Regions from separate parts of the Homo sapiens genome. Here region 2 is linked to region 1. A link means that fine-mapping ties the variant in region 1 to the expression of a gene that starts in the linked region. Tissue or cell type: whole blood. Region 1 holds a variant in brackets; the other region holds the start of a gene. All regions are shown on one strand. Distances are between the middles of the regions.

Evidence for each region. PIP is the estimated chance that this variant, and not a neighbour inherited with it, causes the effect.
Region 2: it holds the start of CCDC24, and the variant in region 1 is fine-mapped to the expression of CCDC24 in whole blood (INTERVAL, PIP above 0.99).

What each region holds. Positions count from the first base shown.
Region 1 is chr1:43,941,557-43,947,208 of GRCh38, forward strand. It overlaps LOC101929609 (a long non-coding RNA gene), which reads right to left and starts at 5,043. Exons shown (of 2, transcript NR_188535.1): 1 at 4,925-5,043; 2 at 2,799-3,240. It overlaps IPO13 (importin 13), which reads left to right and starts at 5,394. Exons shown (of 20, transcript NM_014652.4): 1 at 5,394-5,652. RefSeq lists a silencer at 5,190-5,439. The variant A/G (reference allele first, on the strand shown) is at 2,715.
Region 2 is chr1:43,989,553-43,994,552 of GRCh38, forward strand. CCDC24 (coiled-coil domain containing 24) reads left to right here and starts at 2,047. Exons shown (of 9, transcript NM_152499.4): 1 at 2,047-2,194; 2 at 2,295-2,452; 3 at 2,660-2,835; 4 at 2,971-3,087; 5 at 4,335-4,412. The coding sequence starts at 2,327. B4GALT2 (beta-1,4-galactosyltransferase 2) reads left to right here. Exons shown (of 7, transcript NM_003780.5): 7 at 746-1,616. The coding sequence ends at 896. RefSeq lists silencers at 2,201-2,310, 2,451-2,500.

The DNA of each region.
Region 1 (5,652 bases):
ATACAAAAAATTAGCTGGGCGTGGTGGTGGGCGCCTGTAGTCCCAGCTACTCAGGAGAATGGTGTGAACCTGGGAGGCAGAGCTTGCAGTGAGCTGAGATCGTGCCACTGCACTCCAGCCTAGGCGACAGAGTGAGACTCCATCTCAAAAAAAAAAAAATTGTTGTTTATCTCATATTCAAAATTAAATAGATGGCCAGGTGCGGTGGCTCATGCCTGTAATCCCAGCACTTTGGGAGGCCGAGGTGGGCGGATCACGAGGTCAAGAGTTTGAGACCAGCCTGGCCAATATGGTGAAACCCTGTCTCTACTAAAAATACAAAATTAGCCGGGGATGGTGGTGCACACCTGTAGTCCCAGTTACTCAGGAGGCAGAAGAATTGCTTGAACCTGGGAGGCAGAGGTTGCAGTGAGCCGTGACACTGAACTCTAGCCTGGGTGACAGAGCAAGACTCCATCTCAAAAAAAAAAAAAATAAATAAGTGTCCTGATTTTTTTCTGGCAACCCTAGGTAGGGGTAAACAAGTACCCCAGTAGAAGTATGACTGAGGTTATAGGTATGTGTGTCAAGGAGGGGGCAGATTCTACAATCACAAAGGAAGAGGAATCAGTTTTTTCCTGGATAGACGCAGAAGAGGAAAAGTCTTTGTGGAAAAGGTGGTATTTGAACTGAGTCTTGAAAAATGAGTTTGTTTGCACAGGGTGGATTATAGGGTGGATGAGAGGCATGGAACCCGAACTGGTTATTGCTGATTGCCTTTATTTCCTCTCACTTCTAAATGTACACTGTTCATTGTGGCCATGTCCTGTCCTGCACGGTGTGGTTCTCAGCCCTGGACAGGAATGGAGTGGAGAGGTGAGGGCCTCTTCCTTGGGCTCTCCATCTCAGCCTGAAGACTCTGCTAGTCCTATATTCTTTAGATTTTTATTTGTTTATTTATTTATTTATTTACTTCTTACTAGCCAGTTCATCACAGCTTCAATTCCCTGTTACACTTCAAAATGCTTATGTTGAACTTTCCCTGCCTGCTGACTGTGTGATGTCTCTCTCCTGATGGCATCCAGAATGACACAGAGCCTTCTCAACAGAGGAAGTAGCATGAACAAAGACAGGGAAGTGTGAAACAGCCTGGTGCGCTCCCAGGATTGCCAGCAACTTCAGGTGGACTTGGGGAGGGTCCTCATCAAGACAAAAGACTGGAGAGGTCACAAAGGGCTTTGAATGTTATACCGAGAAGCTCAGCCTTCGCTCTGAAAGGAGCCACTAAAGGGTTTTAAGTGGGCTTGGTTAGAGATGTGTTTCAGATGGATCACTTGCTACTGTGTCTAGTATGGATGGAAGAGGCAAGGTGGGTGCCAGCTAGAGCTGCCATAGTTAGAGCCGTTCAGGCAACAAGCACAGGTACCTTGAGTTAGGGCAGAAGCAAATGTGCAAGGACAGAAGAGATGTGAGGGACAATAAGAGAGGTGAGGGCTGGATGAGAGATGGTTTCCAGGTGTCTAGCTTGGGGGACTGGTACAGAACACAGGGGATGTAGTATTTTAGCATGTGATAGGGGTAAGATGTGGGGAAAATGTGAGTTCAGTTTTGTACATGTTCAACTTTGGGTGCCTGTGGCAACTTCAGAGGGCCAGGAGGCAGCTAAATATGCAGGTTTGAAACCCAGGACAGTCTGGGCTGGAGAAATCCAAGGAGTCACAGCTTGAAGCCAGGGGAGTGGTGAGATAATGAGGCATAAGACAAGAAGCGGAGACTAAGGAGGACCAACATTTAAGGAACAGGTGGAGGAACAGGGATGGGCCAGTGAAGGAAACCAAAAAGGAGTAGTCAGAGTGTCGGGAAAAACAAAACCAAACAGAAGAGCTGAGGGACTGGTCAATAGGGCCAGATGCAGCACAAAAATCAAGCTGCATCAGAACCGAAAACTGCCCGTTAGGTTTTCTTGCAACATGGTGGCCTAAGGACTTGGGCTAAACTTCCTCCTGAAAACAACTTTAAATACTAGACTCTATCTATCTTTAAAATTAAATGCATCCATAAGCTAGCAAAAATGTAAGAAACACACTGAGGCCAAAAAAGTAAATGAAAGCAAGAAGCTACAAAGGTAAGCAAAGCTCTGTCATTGGCTTTCATCTTGAGGGCAGTTGCCGAACCCAGAGAACCTGATCATTGGTTTTCAAGGGGTCTCTGGGCTTATGAGAAAGACAAAGCCCAGGGCCCCCTCACCATGGGGAGTCTATTTAGAAACTTCTCCATAAGGCCAGGACCTCAAAGGCCAGTGTATGCCTACACTGTGAAGGTGAATTAGAAAGAAACCTGCCCCTGTCTGACCTAACCTCTCTCCCTCAAACCAGGGGACTACAAAGAAAACTGCCTACATCCAACCTTGGTACTAAGAAAGGGGAATAATCTCCCCCTGAGAATTCTTTTTTTTCTTCTTCTTCTTTTTTTTTTTTTTTTGAGACAGAGTCTCGCTCTGTTGCCCAGGCTGGAGTGCAATGGCGCGATCTCAGCTCACTGCAACCTCCACCTTCCAGGTCCAAGAGATTCTCCTGCCTCAGCTTCCCAAGTAGCCGGGACTACAGGTGCCCGCCACCACACCAGGCTAACTTTTGTATTTTTAGTAGAGACAGGGTTTCACCGTGTTAGCCAGGCTGGTCTCGAACTCCTGACCTCGTGATCCACCCACCTCAGCCTCCCAAAGTGCTGGTGGC[A/G]TGAGCCACTGCGCCCGGCCTCCCGCTGAGAATTCTTAACTGCAAGCAGGCAGTCGTCTGGTTTTGCAGACCAAATTCACATGATTTTGGTAGGCTGAAAAACTTCAAAGTGATCATTTAATTTGACATGAACATGGATTGGTAGTGGTTCCAGGTGACCAACAAAAGCTCCCTCTCCTCCTCTGCTGAGTTTTGGGATGTTCCCTCCTGAATCTGCAGACCTCTCCCAGGGTTGCCACAGGTTCTTGCCCCTATAGGTCTACACTTGTTCCTTAGAGAAGAAAGAGCCCTTCTGGCTCCCAAAGACTTATCTGCCACTTGGCTCTGAGCTATCCTGCACTAACATCCAAATCTCCTGGAGATCACCTTTGGTCTGGCCTCCGGAAATGCCCCCAACTCTCCCCAGGGCCTACTTCAGTCCATCTGTCCTAAATAGTGTTTGCAAAGGATGTTCAGGAGTCATTGCTGTGAGACTGGGCTTCTTTCTCTGCCAGATCCCTGGAACCTCCAGGGATGAGGAGGAGCCCTGGATGGGAAGCAGGAAGAAAACACATACTGACTAAGTTGTGGTCTCTGGGCTGAGCCCCCCACCCCTAAAACCCCTTAACTAAAATGAGTTTCAGAAGAAGCTAAGGTCTCATTGCTAGAAAGAGGCATAAACAGGTTTTGAACTCAGGACTAAGTCCAGAATTTGTGCATTTAAACCCCACTCCCAACACCATCTCCCCTGCCCACCACCACCTCCACCAGTGAAACCGCCAGCCAGCACCAGGCCCAAGGTATTTCACACCCTAGGCACAGGCCTGGAATCAGTTACTTTATTTTGGCTTTCTATTTCCTCCTTCCAAATGTCTCCTGCCTCTCTTTCTTCCTTCAATTTGTCTTTCATGTTGCAGATTTTTCTAAAATGCAAATGTAATCATCATTGCTCACTTGAAACCCCATCATGGTTTCATATTGCACTTAGGATAATGTCCAAACTCCTACAAGAATCTATTGCCACCAACTTGTCTTTCCAACCTCATCTCTGTTACTCATACCCTTCCCCTTCCCCACCCCACATATATTCTCTTAAAATGAATATAAATTACTTACTATTCTTTCTTTTCTTTTCTTTTTTTTTTTTAGACGGAGTCTCACTCTGTCGCCCAGGCTGGAGTGCAGTGGCGTGATCTCAGCTCACTGCAAGCTCCACCTCCCGTGTTCAAGCCATTCTCCTGCCTCAGCCTCCCGAATAGCTGGGACTACAGGTGCCTGCCACCATGCCCGGCTAATTTTTTGTATTTTTAGTAGAGACGGGGTTTCACCGTGTTAGCCAGGATGGTCTCGATCTCCTGACCTCGTGATCCGCCCGCCTCAGCCTCCCATAGTGCTGGGATTACAGGCGTGAGCCACCGCGCCCGGCCTACTTGCTATTCTTTATTGATGAAGACTTGCTGAATGACTTAGAGTCCTACTGGATTTTGCTTACCAGCTAAATGGGCCCCTCTCCTTCCCAGGCTCTCTATTCTTCAAGCTCAGATCAAGTTTCTCTTCTCAGGGAAGCCTTCATGGACCTTCTCAGGCCTCAGCAGCTGCTGCCAATGCCAGCTTCCAATGCCAGCTTCCTCCATTTGAACAAAACTACGGAGCTCTTTGCACTTTTAATTTTTTCCTCTTCCCTGCTAGGGTAGCTGGCAGGAGTTAATAAACAATAAAATACAACTGGAGGGGTGACAGGCAGGAACTACCGGGGCCTGTGGCAGACCAGATCTATGGCATGGTCTGCCACCCTGTCTGTGTGCCAGGGGCAAGATAAGCCTAACTTTCCCCAAGCTCGATTTCCTCATCTCATCTGAAAATGATGAATAAAAATATCCACCTCAGAGCTATTAAGAAAACTGAACCTAAGGTAAGCAAAGTCCTGCTCCTAGCACTTAAATGTAAGCTACTCTTACTCTAGTTACACATAAAGTTACTTCCAAAAACCTTACGAAATTCCCCGAGCACTGTCCATGGTATGTGGTTTCCCGGTTGCTTATTGGGTGGTCCCGAGAGCCTTCCTTTTTTCCTTCCTGAGGCGTGCCAAGTCCCCTCTCCTCTTCTCTGGGTGGTGCTGACGCCTTCTTCCCAGGCTGCACCTTTGCTGGGCCGGAGGATGCCCCCGGCAGCGGAGCGCCAGAGTGACCAGGCAACCTCCCCAGCCTCCACCCTCTAGCCCGGGCTCCCACCTCCGTCCTCCGGCCCCTCGAGTCACGTCGTCCTACTAAGGAGTTGGGCCGCAGCGCCCCGCGCCGGTCTGACCCGGAATGCCTGCTCGCCGCGGTAGGCCGAGGACAGGCGGGGCTCTGCAGGTCCCCAACCCACGTGCTCCCGGCCTCCTCCGCAGGGCGCCGCCTTCCGGCTAGGCGCAACACGGACTACATTTCCCAGGGTGAACAGCGGCGGGGCCTAGACTCGGCCGCGGCCTGGGGCGGCGAGCCGCTCCACCGCCTGCTCAGGGGAGTGCGAGCTGGCGCGAGGACAGGGCTAAGGACCCGGAATGAGTTTCCGCGCAGTTCCGCTGGGCCGTGCCGGCCTGTACCGGGCCGTGCCGAGCCAGAACTGGCAGGAGTGGGGGCCTGAGTTGGAGGTGCCGGGGACAGGCGCTCGGGGCAGCCCGCGCCTTGCCGAGGTCCCTGCCCCGTCCCGGCCGGCCTGGCTTGTCTTGTCAGTCACTGGGGCGGAGGCAGCGGCTGTAGCGGGGCTGTAGCCGGGCGTTGAGCACAGCGCGGGCCAGGCCGAACGGAAGGGACCTGCCACAGCCCCTCAACTCCACGGACTCTTCGCCCTAGACTAGCGGAGCTGCATCTCCGCGCTTCGTTGGACGCCTCCGTAACCACGAAGGGCTCTCTCTCTCCCGTGACCCTCCAGCCCCATGACCTGTTCATAGCAGCCGAGAGCTCACCCAGGCGGGGGT
Region 2 (5,000 bases), 48 kb after region 1:
TGACATATGCATATCGAACAAACATGCATGTTATATACCATCCATGTTCACCTTGGGGTGGAGACTTAATATTTAAATATATCGCAGTTAGGCCCCATACGTCAAAAAGACAAAAGCACTCAAGTGCGCAGCCTCTGTAAGCTGGCTAGAACCAGTCCATGGCCGATGGTCTTATCAGGAGAAAGTTACTGAGATCAGTCTCTTGTCCCACCAAAGCTATAATTATGGCTTGTGGAACAGGGGCGTAGGGGTCAGCATCTGGCAGTGGGTGAGCTGCAAATTTTTTTCTATTATTTATATTACCACATTATACAAATTGTTTTAATATTGGTTATCTCAAGTCCTGTACTTGTTTAGCTGCTACAGAAAAAGAAAATCCTCGCGGCAGTTAGAGCATAGTCTCTTCTTTAAGTGCAGAGGTGCAAGACTTAACCCTTGCCTGGCATGGCCTTAGATCCTATTTATAATTAGGTATCTTATTGACACAAACAATGCATTCTGTCAGTCTTGTGATCTCTGCTTTGACGTTAATGCTGGTCATTTGTTGTGTCTAAGCTGCAAAAGGGCGTGGGCATAACATGGCATGTTTGACGTCCCTTCCCATCATAGCTGGAAACCCTGTTTTTAAGGTTCCCTGGGGTCCCCTTGGCCAAAAGGGGGTCCATTTAGTTGGTTGGGGGGTGTAGGATTTTATTTTTAGTTTACAGTTGTTAGCCCTGATGTGGACCATTTCCATCCTATCTAGGTTTACCAAGATTCAAAACACGAAGCTGACCATGAAGCGGGACGGCATTGGGTCAGTGCGGTACCAGGTCTTGGAGGTGTCTCGGCAACCACTCTTCACCAATATCACAGTGGACATTGGGCGGCCTCCGTCGTGGCCCCCTCGGGGCTGACACTAATGGACAGAGGCTCTCGGTGCCGAAGATTGCCTGCCAGAGGACTGACCACAGCCTGGCTGGCAGCTGCTCTGTGGAGGACCTCCAGGACTGAGACTGGGCTCTGTTTTCCAAGGGTCTTCACTAGGCCCCCTAGCTACACCTGGAAGTTTCAGAACCCACTTTGGGGGGCCTCCTGCCTGGGCAGGCTCTTCAAGTGTGGCCCTCTTTGGAGTCAACCCTCCTTCCCGACCCCCTCCCCCTAGCCCAGCCCCAGTCACTGTCAGGGTCGGGCCAGCCCCTGCACTGCCTCGCAGAGTGGCCTGGGCTAGGTCACTCCACCTCTCTGTGCCTCAGTTTCCCCCCCTTGAGTCCCCTAGGGCCTGGAAGGGTGGGAGGTATGTCTAGGGGGCAGTGTCTCTTCCAGGGGGAATTCTCAGCTCTTGGGAACCCCCTTGCTCCCAGGGGAGGGGAAACCTTTTTCATTCAACATTGTAGGGGGCAAGCTTTGGTGCGCCCCCTGCTGAGGAGCAGCCCCAGGAGGGGACCAGAGGGGATGCTGTGTCGCTGCCTGGGATCTTGGGGTTGGCCTTTGCATGGGAGGCAGGTGGGGCTTGGATCAGTAAGTCTGGTTCCCGCCTCCCTGTCTGAGAGAGGAGGCAGGAGCCCCAGGGCCGGCTTGTGTTTGTACATTGCACAGAAACTTGTGTGGGTGCTTTAGTAAAAAACGTGAATGGAGCAGCTCCCTTGTCTGTTTGGGGGTGGGGGTCGGGTCCCTGAACGTGGTTACCCTGAGTGTGTTGTGGTGGAAGGGCACTTGGGGAACCTGGCCCAACAAGTAAACCTGACCCGGGCCATCCTGGTTCTCCAAGCGCTGCCACTCCCTAGGCTTTCACTGGCCTTAAGGGGAAGTTTGTCCTTGCACTGCTTCCGGGACAGTGGAGGCGACGAAGTAATAAACCCGTGGACCCAGATTTCTCAGGTCTTAACACGTTCCCTGAGGCCTAAAGGTGCCCAGGGCCGAGCCCAAAGTGCTTGGGTCAGGGCTCGGTGGAGCGCCGAGGTGAGTCTGAACTCCCAGCCGGCACGCGCCGCCCGCCGGACCAAACACGGGAGGGGGCGGGGCCCTAGAGTCGCGGCGTGGTTTCCCGGGTGATGGCCACGCGGAAGAGGTGGGGCTAGGGCCCTGGTTCCCACTGCCTGGTTTCTGGGCCCCCGGCATCCGAGTCGGCCAAAAGCCGGGCAGAAGAGAGCGCCAAGGACTGGCAGTTCCGGAACGGGCAATCCCAGCCGAGGGGACCAGCGGCAGAGCACGGGTGGGGCTTGGGAGAGGGCGGGGCCCATAGAGGGGCGGGGTTTGGTGAGCGTTGCCGGCGGGCCCGCGGTACCTCCCGCACTCTGACCTGCGGCCCGTAGGTCCGAGCCGGGGACGGCGGCGTCGGTGGGTCATGCTCCGGCACTCCCCCTCGCTGTGGGAGCTGGTGGAGGAGCACGTTCCGCTCCGGGAGCGACGCGAAGTGAAGAGGATTCTGGGGGAGGCGGCGGTGGACCTGAGCCTGGAGCTGCGGGCGGAGGTGGGGAGAGGGAAGGTGGGCCACGCCCCTGGCCTGCCCCACGACTCGGGTGATTTCCCACCTCTGCGGGTCCCTGGCCCTGCCGGGTAACTCCCGAGATCCTATCCTGGTCTCCCCTTTGACTCCGCCCTCTCCCTCACTCCCCCAGCCCCCACCATTCCGGACACTCCCCTCCCCAGTCGCAAGGTATCCCAGCTCTCCTTGCAGGTGGCGATGTTACGGGCACTGCTCCAAGAGGCTCGATCCTCTCAAGCCCCCAGCTCCCGCCCCATCTCTGACCCCTCTTCTCTTCTGGCACCACCGCCTCTCCTAAAGGACCTCTTGCGCCAGGAGCTCCGGCAGTTGCTCCAGGGTCTCCGCCACAAAGCCATCTGTGAGGGCAGGTGGGAGCCTCAGGCCTGGGCCCTTTCCCTAGATACCAGGTGGGCTAGCGCTGCCCCTAACAAGGAGCCAGGGTTGCCTTTTCTGTGGTTTCCAGAAAGGAGCCTCTCAGCTTCCTTCCTGTGCACCTTCTGCAGGGACCAGGCCCAAGCTTGGGTCCAGTATAGCCCCAGGGTCCTGCACTTTGCCTTGGAGGAGCCCAGGTGTGATTTGCCAGAACAGGAGATATTCCAGATGAGAGGTGGTGGGCCCAGGTAAGGTGATGGTAGGAGAGAGGGATCTGTCCCTGCTTGGCAGAGGGCCCTAGCCCACTGGTGGGTTGCACCTGGCTCCATGCAGGAGATTCCAGTCACGGGCTGGGCACTTCCACCGCCACTTGTGATAGAGATTATCAGCCCATGAGGGCTACTGAAACCCAGAGGAAACACCTGCCTAGCCTGGGGACAGGCAAAGCTTCCTGGAGAAAGTGGTTTGATCTGCGTGTTGTAGTATGAGGAGCAGTTTTCAGGGAGATGAAAGAGAAGAGCTTTGTAGGAAGAGGGAAGAAAGGAAGCCATGTCCAGCAGGCGGTTGTTCCTCTGGCCTAGAGAACAGGAGTGAGGGCTGGGCTAGGGAGGCAGGGAGAGCTGAAGAGGATGGTCACAAATGGTATTTACAGCTGGGACTGAATGAGATAAAATATTCATAAGTGGATGGCAGCAACTTCTTATTCTAATCCTCACACAGCCTGAGGAGGTGGGCAAAATCTCCATTTTGCACAAGAGGAAATTAAAGGCCGGGCATAGTGGCTCATGCCTGTAATCCCAGCACTTTGGGAGGCTGAGGCGGGAGGATGGCTTGAGGCCAGGAGTTTGAGATCAGCCTGGGCAATACAGGGAGACCCCATCTTTACAAAAAGTGAAAAAAAAAATAGTCAGGTGAGGTGGCGCATGCCTGTATTCCCAGCTACTTGGGAGGCTGAGGTGGGATAATTGCTTGAGCTCAGGAATTCGGGGCTGCAGTGAGCTATGATTGCACCTGTGCACTCCAACCTGGGTGACAAAGACCCTGTCTCTAAGAAAAAAAAAAAAGAAGCCTGGGCAACATAGTGAGACCCCATCTGTGCAAAAAAATTGAACAGGCGTGGTGGCACGCACCTGTAGTCCCAGCTACTCAGGAGGCTGATGTGGGAAGAGCACTTGAGCCCGGGATGTCAAGGCTGCAGTGAGCCAAGATGGTGCTACTGCACTCCAGCCTGGGCAACAGAGCACAATCTTGTCTCAAAAAAAAAAAAAAAAAAGGAAAAGAAACTAAAGCTCAGAAGCGATAAGTGATTTGCCTGAAGTCACACACAATGAAGGGTGGCAGAGCTCATTTGCAAACCTAGGCTCCCAAACTCTTACTCTTTGCACTATATTATATTGCCTTTGTGAGAAAAGAAACAGTTGCCTAGAAGTGATATTTGGGTCCTGAAGGCCTGGGGTGAGCAACATGCGGAGAGTGATAGTGACTTCATTGCCAGCAGCGGTCACAGAGATCTCAGCATCATCAAGGACCAACTGAACGTGTCCAACATTGACCAGGTGGCCAGACACCTGAGGTGAGGCCCAGGGGCACCTGCATGTGTATAGGCAGGGGTGGAGACAAGGATGGATCTTGAGGTGCTGGGATTGTGAGACAGGAGGTGGGTAGTATACTTGGCGGGGAGGCCCATGTGCGTAAGGCTGAGAGGTGGAAAGAGCTGGCTGCTATAGAGCTAGTGAGGTTGCTTTCAGGAAGCAGCCAAGTACAGATGCCACGGCCGAGCATGATGGTGCATGCCTATAATCCCAGCAATTTGGGAGGCCGAGGCAAGAGGGTCATTTGGGCCCAGGAATTCGAAACCAGCTTGGCCAACATGGGAAAACCCCATCTCTACCAAAACAAATACAAAAATTAGCTGGGCGTGGTGGTGCACGCCTGTACCAGTTACTTGGGAGGCTGAGGTGAGAAGGGATTGATTGAGCCCTGGAAGGTAAGGCTACAGTGAGTCATGATGGGTGGCAGAGCAAGACCCTGTTTCTTTCTTTCTTTCTTTCTTTTTTTTTTTTTTTTGAGATGGAGTCTTGTTCTGGCGCCCAGGCTGGAGTGCAGTGGCGTGATCTTGGCTCACTGCAAGCTCCACCTCCCGGGTTCACACCATTCTCCT